3 separate regions of the Homo sapiens genome follow, and regions 1 and 3 are each linked to region 2. The links come from fine-mapping of genetic effects on gene expression. A gene starts in region 2. Each other region holds a variant in brackets. All regions are shown on one strand. Distances are between the middles of the regions.

What was found. PIP is the estimated chance that this variant, and not a neighbour inherited with it, causes the effect.
Region 1: its variant is fine-mapped to the expression of ADGRL1-AS1 in whole blood (TOPMed, PIP above 0.99).
Region 3: its variant is fine-mapped to the expression of ADGRL1-AS1 in whole blood (TOPMed, PIP above 0.99).

Annotation. Positions count from the first base shown.
Region 1 is chr19:14,184,483-14,187,238 of GRCh38, reverse strand. The region is part of intron 1 of ADGRL1 (adhesion G protein-coupled receptor L1); the gene reads left to right. Among named protein-coding and RNA genes, the nearest start is that of ADGRL1, 20 kb to the left of the region's middle. The variant G/A (reference allele first, on the strand shown) is at 1,613.
Region 2 is chr19:14,136,011-14,138,766 of GRCh38, reverse strand. It overlaps ADGRL1-AS1 (ADGRL1 antisense RNA 1), which reads right to left and starts at 1,615. Exons shown (of 3, transcript NR_045214.1): 1 at 1,544-1,615. ASF1B (anti-silencing function 1B histone chaperone) reads left to right here and starts at 2,178. Exons shown (of 4, transcript NM_018154.3): 1 at 2,178-2,419. The coding sequence starts at 2,311. RefSeq lists enhancers at 1,533-1,692, 1,189-1,815, 1,893-2,032 and a silencer at 2,363-2,412.
Region 3 is chr19:14,095,758-14,098,513 of GRCh38, reverse strand. It overlaps PRKACA (protein kinase cAMP-activated catalytic subunit alpha), which reads left to right. Exons shown (of 10, transcript NM_002730.4): 6 at 624-750; 7 at 840-935; 8 at 1,031-1,153. Among named protein-coding and RNA genes, the nearest start is that of SAMD1, 6.4 kb to the right of the region's middle. The variant G/C (reference allele first, on the strand shown) is at 1,534.

The DNA.
Region 1 (2,756 bases), 48 kb before region 2:
GCCTCCCGAGTAGCTGGGATTACAGGCACCCGCCACCACGCCCGGCTAATTTTTTGGTATTTTTAGTAGAGATGGGGTTTCACCATGTTGGCCAGGCTGGTCTCGAACTCCCACCTCTGGTGATCCACCCGCCTCGGCTTCCCAAAGTGCTGGGATTACAGGCACGGGCCACCGTGCCCAGCCGTGTGCTGATTTGTAAGGGCCTCTCTCAAGAAGCTCGTGTTGATAAAAAGGTAATTTCAGGTGCTCACTTGAGAGCTGTGAATTAAAAACAGGGAAAAGGATGGCGGGTGAGGGCAGCAGGCGAGGACTGTTTTGTTTGCAGGGGGTCAGGGTAGGTCACTCTGCTGGGGTGACCTTGCGGCTGAGCCCTGAACAATGAGCAGCCGCAGCCGACATGCAGGGATCCTGCTTGGGGACTGGAACTGGAATGTTGAATGTTTCAGGAACAGGAGGGAGGACAGAATGGGGCTTGGAGAGCTTGGTGGCACCAGTTCACCCACAGCCTCTGGGCTCTAGTGAGGAACTGAGACCCCAGCAGAGACCAGGGGGTCAGTTAATGTTCGGATCAACATCATCATGTGGTCCCTTAGCTCTGAGTGAAGGGCGGATTGGGAGGCGGGCAAGGAGGCCAGGACAACATACAGGTGACATAGGATGGTGCATGGGCCTGGGTGCTGTGCTTAGAGCCAGAAGTGGGCAGGTCGCGAGGTACTTCAGAGGCAGAGCCCACAGGAGTTGCTGATGGCTTCCGTGAGGGGGATGACAGGGAAGGTGAGGAATCAAGGCAGAGTCTCAGCTTTGGGATCTGAGATTCATTCAACAAATAATTAATTCATTGCCACGTGCCAGGCCTATTCTAAAAGTTGAGGATATGAAGACAACAGTGGTGATGGCCTCACGCAGTAATCCCAGCACTTTGGGATGTTGAGGCAGGAGGATCTCTTGAGGCCAGAAGTTCATGTTCAGCCTGGGCAACATAGCAAGACCTCATCTTTGCAAAATAAAATAAATTAGCTGGATGTGATGGTGCATACCTGTGGTCTCAGCTACTAGGGAGGCCGAGGCGGGAGGATCACTTGAGCCTGGGAGGTGGAGGCTGCAGTGAGCCATGATTTCACCACTGCACTCCAGCCTGAGTGACAGAGCAAGACCCTATCTCTAAAAAAATAAAAGTAAATAAAAGTTGGGGATACGGCCACCATGAGCAAAACAGTTCAATGATCCCTGCCCCATGAAGAGGACATTCTATACACCAGGTGAATAGTTCTATCTGAGCAGAGGCCTGAAGGAGCCAGCCATGTGGACAGTGGGTTGGCAGAAGCTACAGGTGGAGGAAGCAACAGGTGCAAAGGCCCTGGGGCAAGGCCTGCTGTGGTCCAGGAATAGCAGGAGTGGCTGGAGCAGAAATGGGGTCAGGGAGCTAACTGGGCCAATTACAAGGGTTTTGGTTTTCAGCAGGGAAATGGTAGTGGGGGCTCTGATGAGAGATTCCAGGCTGGACATAAGAGATTTGAAAGTGCTGGCTCAATGATGGTACTGAGAGCCCAGGACAGCCTGAGATGGGACAGGCTGGGATGACAGCTGGATATGACAGAGCAGGGGTTCCCAC[G/A]CTTCAGGGCCTGCCTCAGAGAATGTGTGTTTCTGGCCAGCACAGTGGCTCACGCCTGTAATCCCAGCACTTTGGGAGACTGAGGTGGGAGGATCATTTGAGGCCAGGAGTTCAAGACCAGCTTGGGCAACATAGCAAGATCCTGTCTCTATAAGACATTTTAAAATTAGCTGGGCGTGGTGGCGAGAGCCTGTGGTCCCAGCTACTCGAAAGGCTGAAGTAGGAGCATCACTTGAACCCAGGATCTGGAGGTTGCAGTGAGCCGTCATTGTGCCACTGTACTCCAGCCTGGGCAACAGAGCAAGACCCTGTCTCTTAAAAAAAGAAAGAGAGAGAGAGAATGTGTGTTTCTACCAAGTTCCTGGCAAGGCTGATGCCAGTGTGCTGGGACCACACCTGGAGAACCAGGGTGTAGATAAAGCAAAGAGCTGAGGACAGACATTTGAGCGTGCAAGCCTGAGAGGATTTGGGGAGACTGAGGCGGGGAGAGAGGTGAGAAGGAGCAGCCATAAGGCAGGAAGAAACCAGTTAGAACCGAGTCCTGGACTGGGCACAGTGGCTCACTCCTGTAATCCCAAAGTTTTGGGGGGCCCAGGCAGGAAGATCCCTTAAGCCCAGGAGTTTGAGATCAGTCTGGGCAACATAGCAAGACCTCCTCTCTGCAGCAAATTTAAAAATTAGCTGGTGGTGCTGGGCGCTGTGGCTCACGCCTGTAATCCCAGCACTTTGGGAGGCCGAGACGGGCGGATCACGAGGTCAGGAGATAGAGACCATCCTGGCTAACACGGTGAAACCCCATCTCGACTAAAAATACAAAAAATTAGCCGGGCGTGTTGGTGGGTGCCTGTAGTCCCAGCTACTCGGGAGGCTGAGGCAGGAGAATGGCGTGAACCCAGGAGGCGGAGCTTGCAGTGAGCTGAGTCTGTGCCACTGCACTCCAGCCTGGGGGACAGAGCACGACTCCGTCTCAGAAAAAAAAATAAATAAATAAATAAATAAATAAATAAATAAATAAATAAAATAAAAATTAGCTGGTGGTAGTGGTGCAAGCCTGTGATTTCAGCTACTTGGGAGGCTGAGGTGGGAGGATTCCTTGAGTCTGGGAGGTTGAGGCTGCAGTGAGCTGTGATTATATCATTGCACT
Region 2 (2,756 bases):
CTGTCCAGAGCACCCTTAGAAAGGCCTCTCTGGGGAGAGGACATTTGAACAGAGACTTGAATGACAAGAAGGCATAAGCCATGCCAAGAGCCTAGGAGAAGAGGTTCTGGGCAGAGGCTTTGCACTGGGAGTGGCTTGTCAGAATTTTAACAAAAAGAGGGTTACTTAGCCTGGTTTGAAGTTGGAGCTGGGTGGTTAACAGGAGACAAAGCATAGAGTTTCAAAGACAATGCTCTCATCCGGAGAAGTGACCTGGTCAAATGTGTTTCTGACCTTCGCTGTCCAGTAATACAGGAGCCACTTGTCACACGGGCTCAGGAGCACTCAACTGCGGCTATCAAGACAGCTAAACTGAACTTTCTTTTTTAAAATTTAATTTTAATTTTTAGAGACAGGGTCTCACTCTGACACTCAGGCTGGAGTGCAGTGGCTGGAGCATTCTGGGCTCAAGAGATCCTCCTGCCTCAGCTTCAGGAGTAGCAGACACTACAGGTATGCACTACCACACCTGGCTTATTCTTTTATTTTTTGTAGATATGAGGTCTTGTTATGTTGCCCAGGCTGATCTTGAACTCCTGGCCTCAAGAAATCCTCCATGACCAGCCTCTAAAATTACAAATAATAATAAAAAAAGATATGGCCGGGCACAGTGGCTCACGCCTGTAATCCCAGCACTCTGGAAGGCCGAGGCGGGCGGATCACTTGAGGTCAGGAGTTCGAGACCAGCCTGGCCAACATGGTGAAACCCCGTCTCTACTGAAAATACAGAAAAAAAATTAGCTGGTTGTGGTGGTGGGCACCTGTAATCCCAGCTACTCAGGAGGCTGAGGCAGGAGAATCGCTTGAACCCGGGAGGTAGAGGTTGCAGTGAGCCGAGATCGCGCCATTGCACTCCAGCCTGAGTGACAGCGCGAGATTCCATCTCAAAAAAAAAAAAGTGGCTTCCAAAAAATGTTAATTTTACACCTAATTTTGGTGCGCGGCTGGCATTATTTTTCCACTGGGCAGCACTGATCGCCCGTGGGGGCAGAGACTCTGAGACCTGGAGTCTCCCAGGCCGGGGGCGACGGCCCAGACGGGAGGCGGTGGAGAGAAGTTTCCGGATGTATTATGTGGTCATGAATCATGTCAGGGAATTGCCACGGCCCCCGTTGAATGGGGAGGCGCTGCCTCGGGCGCTGAGTAGCAGAGCCCGGACTCTGAACACTGGTCTGCCCCCGAACTGGAACTCCCATTTTCAGTACCGTCCGCTTGAAACCTCCCAAGAGCCCTCAAGGGGGCGAGAGAGGGATCCAAACCCCTCGGGGGCGAGAGCGGGATCCGAACCCCTCGGGGGCGAGAGCGGGATCCGAACCCCTCGGGGGCGAGAGCGGGATCCGAACCCCTCGGGGGCGAAAGCGGGATCCGAACCCGGCCGGATTCCCGAGGTCTGAGCGCGCCTCGTGACCGCCACTCCGAACGTTCGCAACGTTCACAACGGACTCCCGCGCCGCTGGACCTCAAGGGTCAGGAGCCACTCAGAAAAGCTCCAGGAAACGCTCACCTGTTGACAGACGCTGAGGCCGCAAACGCTCCTCCTCTCTCTTCACACTCGCCAACACCGCGGTGGCGCTCGACTTCCGCTTCTCTCCAGCGAATCCCCAGCTGAGCCTCCTTCTGCTCCCGCCACCATTACCAATCCAGCCAATAAACTCTCAGAAAACCCTCTTTATCTCCGCCCCACTCCCTCCTGCCAATCACTTCGGGTGCGAGCACCGCCCTTCCCGCCTTCTTTAGCGAGCGCCGCGCGCCACCGCTCGGCGGGTGGCGGCGCTGCGCGCTGCGGGATGCATCTCCCGGAAAAGCGAGGCGAGGGGCGGGCCACGCCGGTGCGGGAACCCTCAGGATTGGCCAGAAGGAGGCCGGCGCTGTGACTCCGTCCATTCCCGCCGTTGACATCCAAGTCGGAGACGCTGGGGATTGGTTTCCAGCGGACACGCTAAGAAGCTTGGAGATAGTTTCGCCCTCCTCACACGCTGCGGAGAGGGAGCTCCGCTGATTGGTCCGAGGAGTCTGGGCGCGCGCCGATCGGCGCTCCAGGACTGGCTGAGGGGGTGCGCGCGCCGCCAGGGAGCGTTGGCGGTGATTGGCCAGAGGGCGGAGGCCGGCTATTTGAAGGCGGCGCGCGGACTAGGTGCGCACTTCAGTTCTCGGAGAGAAGAGGCGGGAGTGGACCTGGTCAGCCCTACCCCACTGACCCCACCGGACCCAGGCGCGGCCTCCGCCACAGCCACAGCCCCTGCCCCTGCTGCGGCGCGGCGAGGCGAGGCGATGGCCAAGGTGTCGGTGCTGAACGTGGCGGTCCTGGAGAACCCGAGCCCTTTCCACAGCCCCTTCCGGTTCGAGATCAGCTTCGAGTGCAGTGAAGCCCTGGCGGACGGTGAGGCTGGGCCTGTGCGGGGACCCCCACCCCCGGGCCGACCCCGGCCTCCCCTCAGAGAACCGCTCCCATGGCCAACTTGATCTCCCCCATGAAACCCCTCGTCCCCCTTCCGCCAACCCCGATCTCCCCCAGCCCGCCAGTCAACCGGATCTCCCGGTGGAGACCCCCCGCCACCAGCCAACACGGACCTCCCCGTGACCTCCTCCCCCACTGCCCGCCTTGACCTCCCGGGTGGAGACCCCCCGCCAGCTAACTCGGACCTCCCAGTGGCCTCTTCCCCCACTGCCCGCCCCGACCTCCCCATAGAGATTAACCCCCTCCAAGCCCCATTTCC
Region 3 (2,756 bases), 40 kb after region 2:
AAAAAATAAATTAATCAAAAAAAAATATATATATATATATACACACACACACACATATCTACATACATACAGAGGTGAGGTCTTGCCTATATTGCCCAGGCTGGTCTCGAACTCCTGGGCTCAAGCGATCTTCCCACCTCGACCCCCCAAAATGCTGGGATTACAGGGGTGAGCCACCGCACCGGGCCGAATCCCTCTCTTGACACGTCACCTCCCCACCAAAGGCAGTTGTCCTTTCTGACTTCAAACACCGTGCCTTTGTTTTGTCTGGGCGTGGACATGATATAAATGGAATCATTCATGTTCTTTTGTGTCTTCTTTTGCTTAACATAATCAGTTTGAAATGCAGCCACATTGTTGAGTGGATGCATGGGCTGTCCTGTTGGCGGTGGTGGTGGTGAGTGGAATTCCATTGTATGACTATAGCTCAGTCTGTGATTCCATTTTCCTGTGGATGGACCCACAGGCTGTTTCCCATGTCGGGCTATCTAAGAATCAGGTGCCTTGCGTTTCTGACGGCTGGACTGGAGGTGTCTTCCTCTGGGGTAGGCTCTGCAGGGCCACCTGCTGGACCATTTTGGGGCATGACCACTGACGTTCACCTCCCCATTTGTCCCCATCAGTGAGCCCCATGCCCGTTTCTACGCGGCCCAGATCGTCCTGACCTTTGAGTATCTGCACTCGCTGGATCTCATCTACAGGGACCTGAAGCCGGAGAATCTGCTCATTGACCAGCAGGGCTACATTCAGGTGCCCACCAGGCCGGGCGAGGGGCAGCCCTGGGGAAGCCGTGGCCTGGACCCTTCCTCCCTGCCAACTGCCTGTTCTTGTGCCCACAGGTGACAGACTTCGGTTTCGCCAAGCGCGTGAAGGGCCGCACTTGGACCTTGTGCGGCACCCCTGAGTACCTGGCCCCTGAGATTATCCTGAGCAAAGTAGGAGCCTCCCCAGCCCTCCCCTTCCCCTGAGGCCGGCTCTGCTCTCCTGCTCTCGCCTCCTCCTCACCCTGTGCCCCCCCATCTTGCTCCAGGGCTACAACAAGGCCGTGGACTGGTGGGCCCTGGGGGTTCTTATCTATGAAATGGCCGCTGGCTACCCGCCCTTCTTCGCAGACCAGCCCATCCAGATCTATGAGAAGATCGTCTCTGGGAAGGTGAGGTCCGGATGTGGGGACACAGCCCTGGAAGAAACAGACCGTTCCCTGCTCACCCATCCTATTCCCTGGGGAGCCCTGCTTGTTGTCAGAATAATCTAGAAGTTCCTTAAGTCAGGCCAGGTGGTGAAGCTGGACGCGCCGGCCACACTGAGGCCAACACCTCAAGCCCCCTTGCTGTCCAGCCCCAACCCCGCGGTTCCAGAATCCCATGGGCTTCCAAAATCCCGAGCCTCACGGGAACATCTTGGCCACAGAACACAAACCGCCCTGCCAGACGACCCTCCTTTTCGCTCCTCATCCCAGTTAGTGTGAGTTTTCGCAAATTCCAAGGCAGAAAAACGAATGTATTTGGTTCCTGTTCCCAGGTGCTGTCCATA[G/C]CCTCACCCAGGATTGCCCTCACTTAGCATTTATAGCCCATGCTTCCTCTCCCAAACCCAGACTTGCCTAACTCTGAGGGTTCAGATGAGGGGTGGTGAAGCCATCTCAGCTCACATCTATGACAGGTGCAAAGTGCCCACCATCCACCAGGCCCCAGAATCCCCATCAGTCACACCCTGAGATAGTGGCACCCTCTGTAGGAGAGGTGAGGAAACAGGCTGGGAAAAGGGATGTGTCTTGGCCAAGATCACACTTTGGTGAGTAGGTAATCACCGTAGGCAATCATTGTAGGCACTGATGGCCGGAGAGAGGTTGGGGACCCCACCTCTGCCCTCAGCTCAACCACCTTGCTGGGAAGACCCGACCATCCCCCGACTTGGTCCAGCATCTCCTACACAGGAGCTTTTGGTTGGCCCGGAGTCATGACACTGTGGTGGGAGCACCCTCAGGCTCAGCCTGGGCCCCAGTCCCAGCTCTGCCACCGACTGGCTTTGAAACTTTGGGGCTGGGTACAATGGCTCACACCTGTAATGCCAGCACCTTGGGAAGTGGAGGCTTGAGGCCAGGAGTTCCAGACCAGCCTGGGCAACATAGCCAGACCCCATCTCTAAAAAAAAAAAAAAAAAAACAAACTGGCCGGGCGCGGTGGCTTACACCTGTAATCCCAGCACTGTGGGAAGCCAAGGCGGGCAGATCACCTGAGGTCGGGAGTTCGAGACCAGCCTGACTAACATGGTGAAACTCCGTCTCTACTAAAAACACACACAAAAAAAATTAGCTGGGTATAGTGGTGGGCGCCTGTAATCCCAGCTACTTGGGAGGCTGAGGCAGGAGAATCACTTGAACCCAGGAGGCGGAGGTTGCAGTGAGCCAAGATCACACCATTGTACTCCAGCCTGGGCAACAGGGCAGGACTCTGTCTCAAAAAAAAAAAAAAAAAAAAAAAACTAAAAATTAGCTGGGCGTGATGGTGCACCCCTGTGTTCCCAGCTCATCGGGAGGGTGAGGCAGGAGGATCGCTTGAGCCCAGAAGTGAGCTGTGAGCTGTGATTGCATCACTGCAGTCTAGCCTGGGTCACAGAGCCAGACCCTGTCTTTTAAAAAAATTCAGGCAAGTGGGGTGCCCCAGCTGGACACATAGCATCACTAAAAGAGAAAGATGAAGGCCAGGCGCGGTGGCTCACACCTATAATCCCAGCATTTTGGGAGGCCAAGGCAGGTG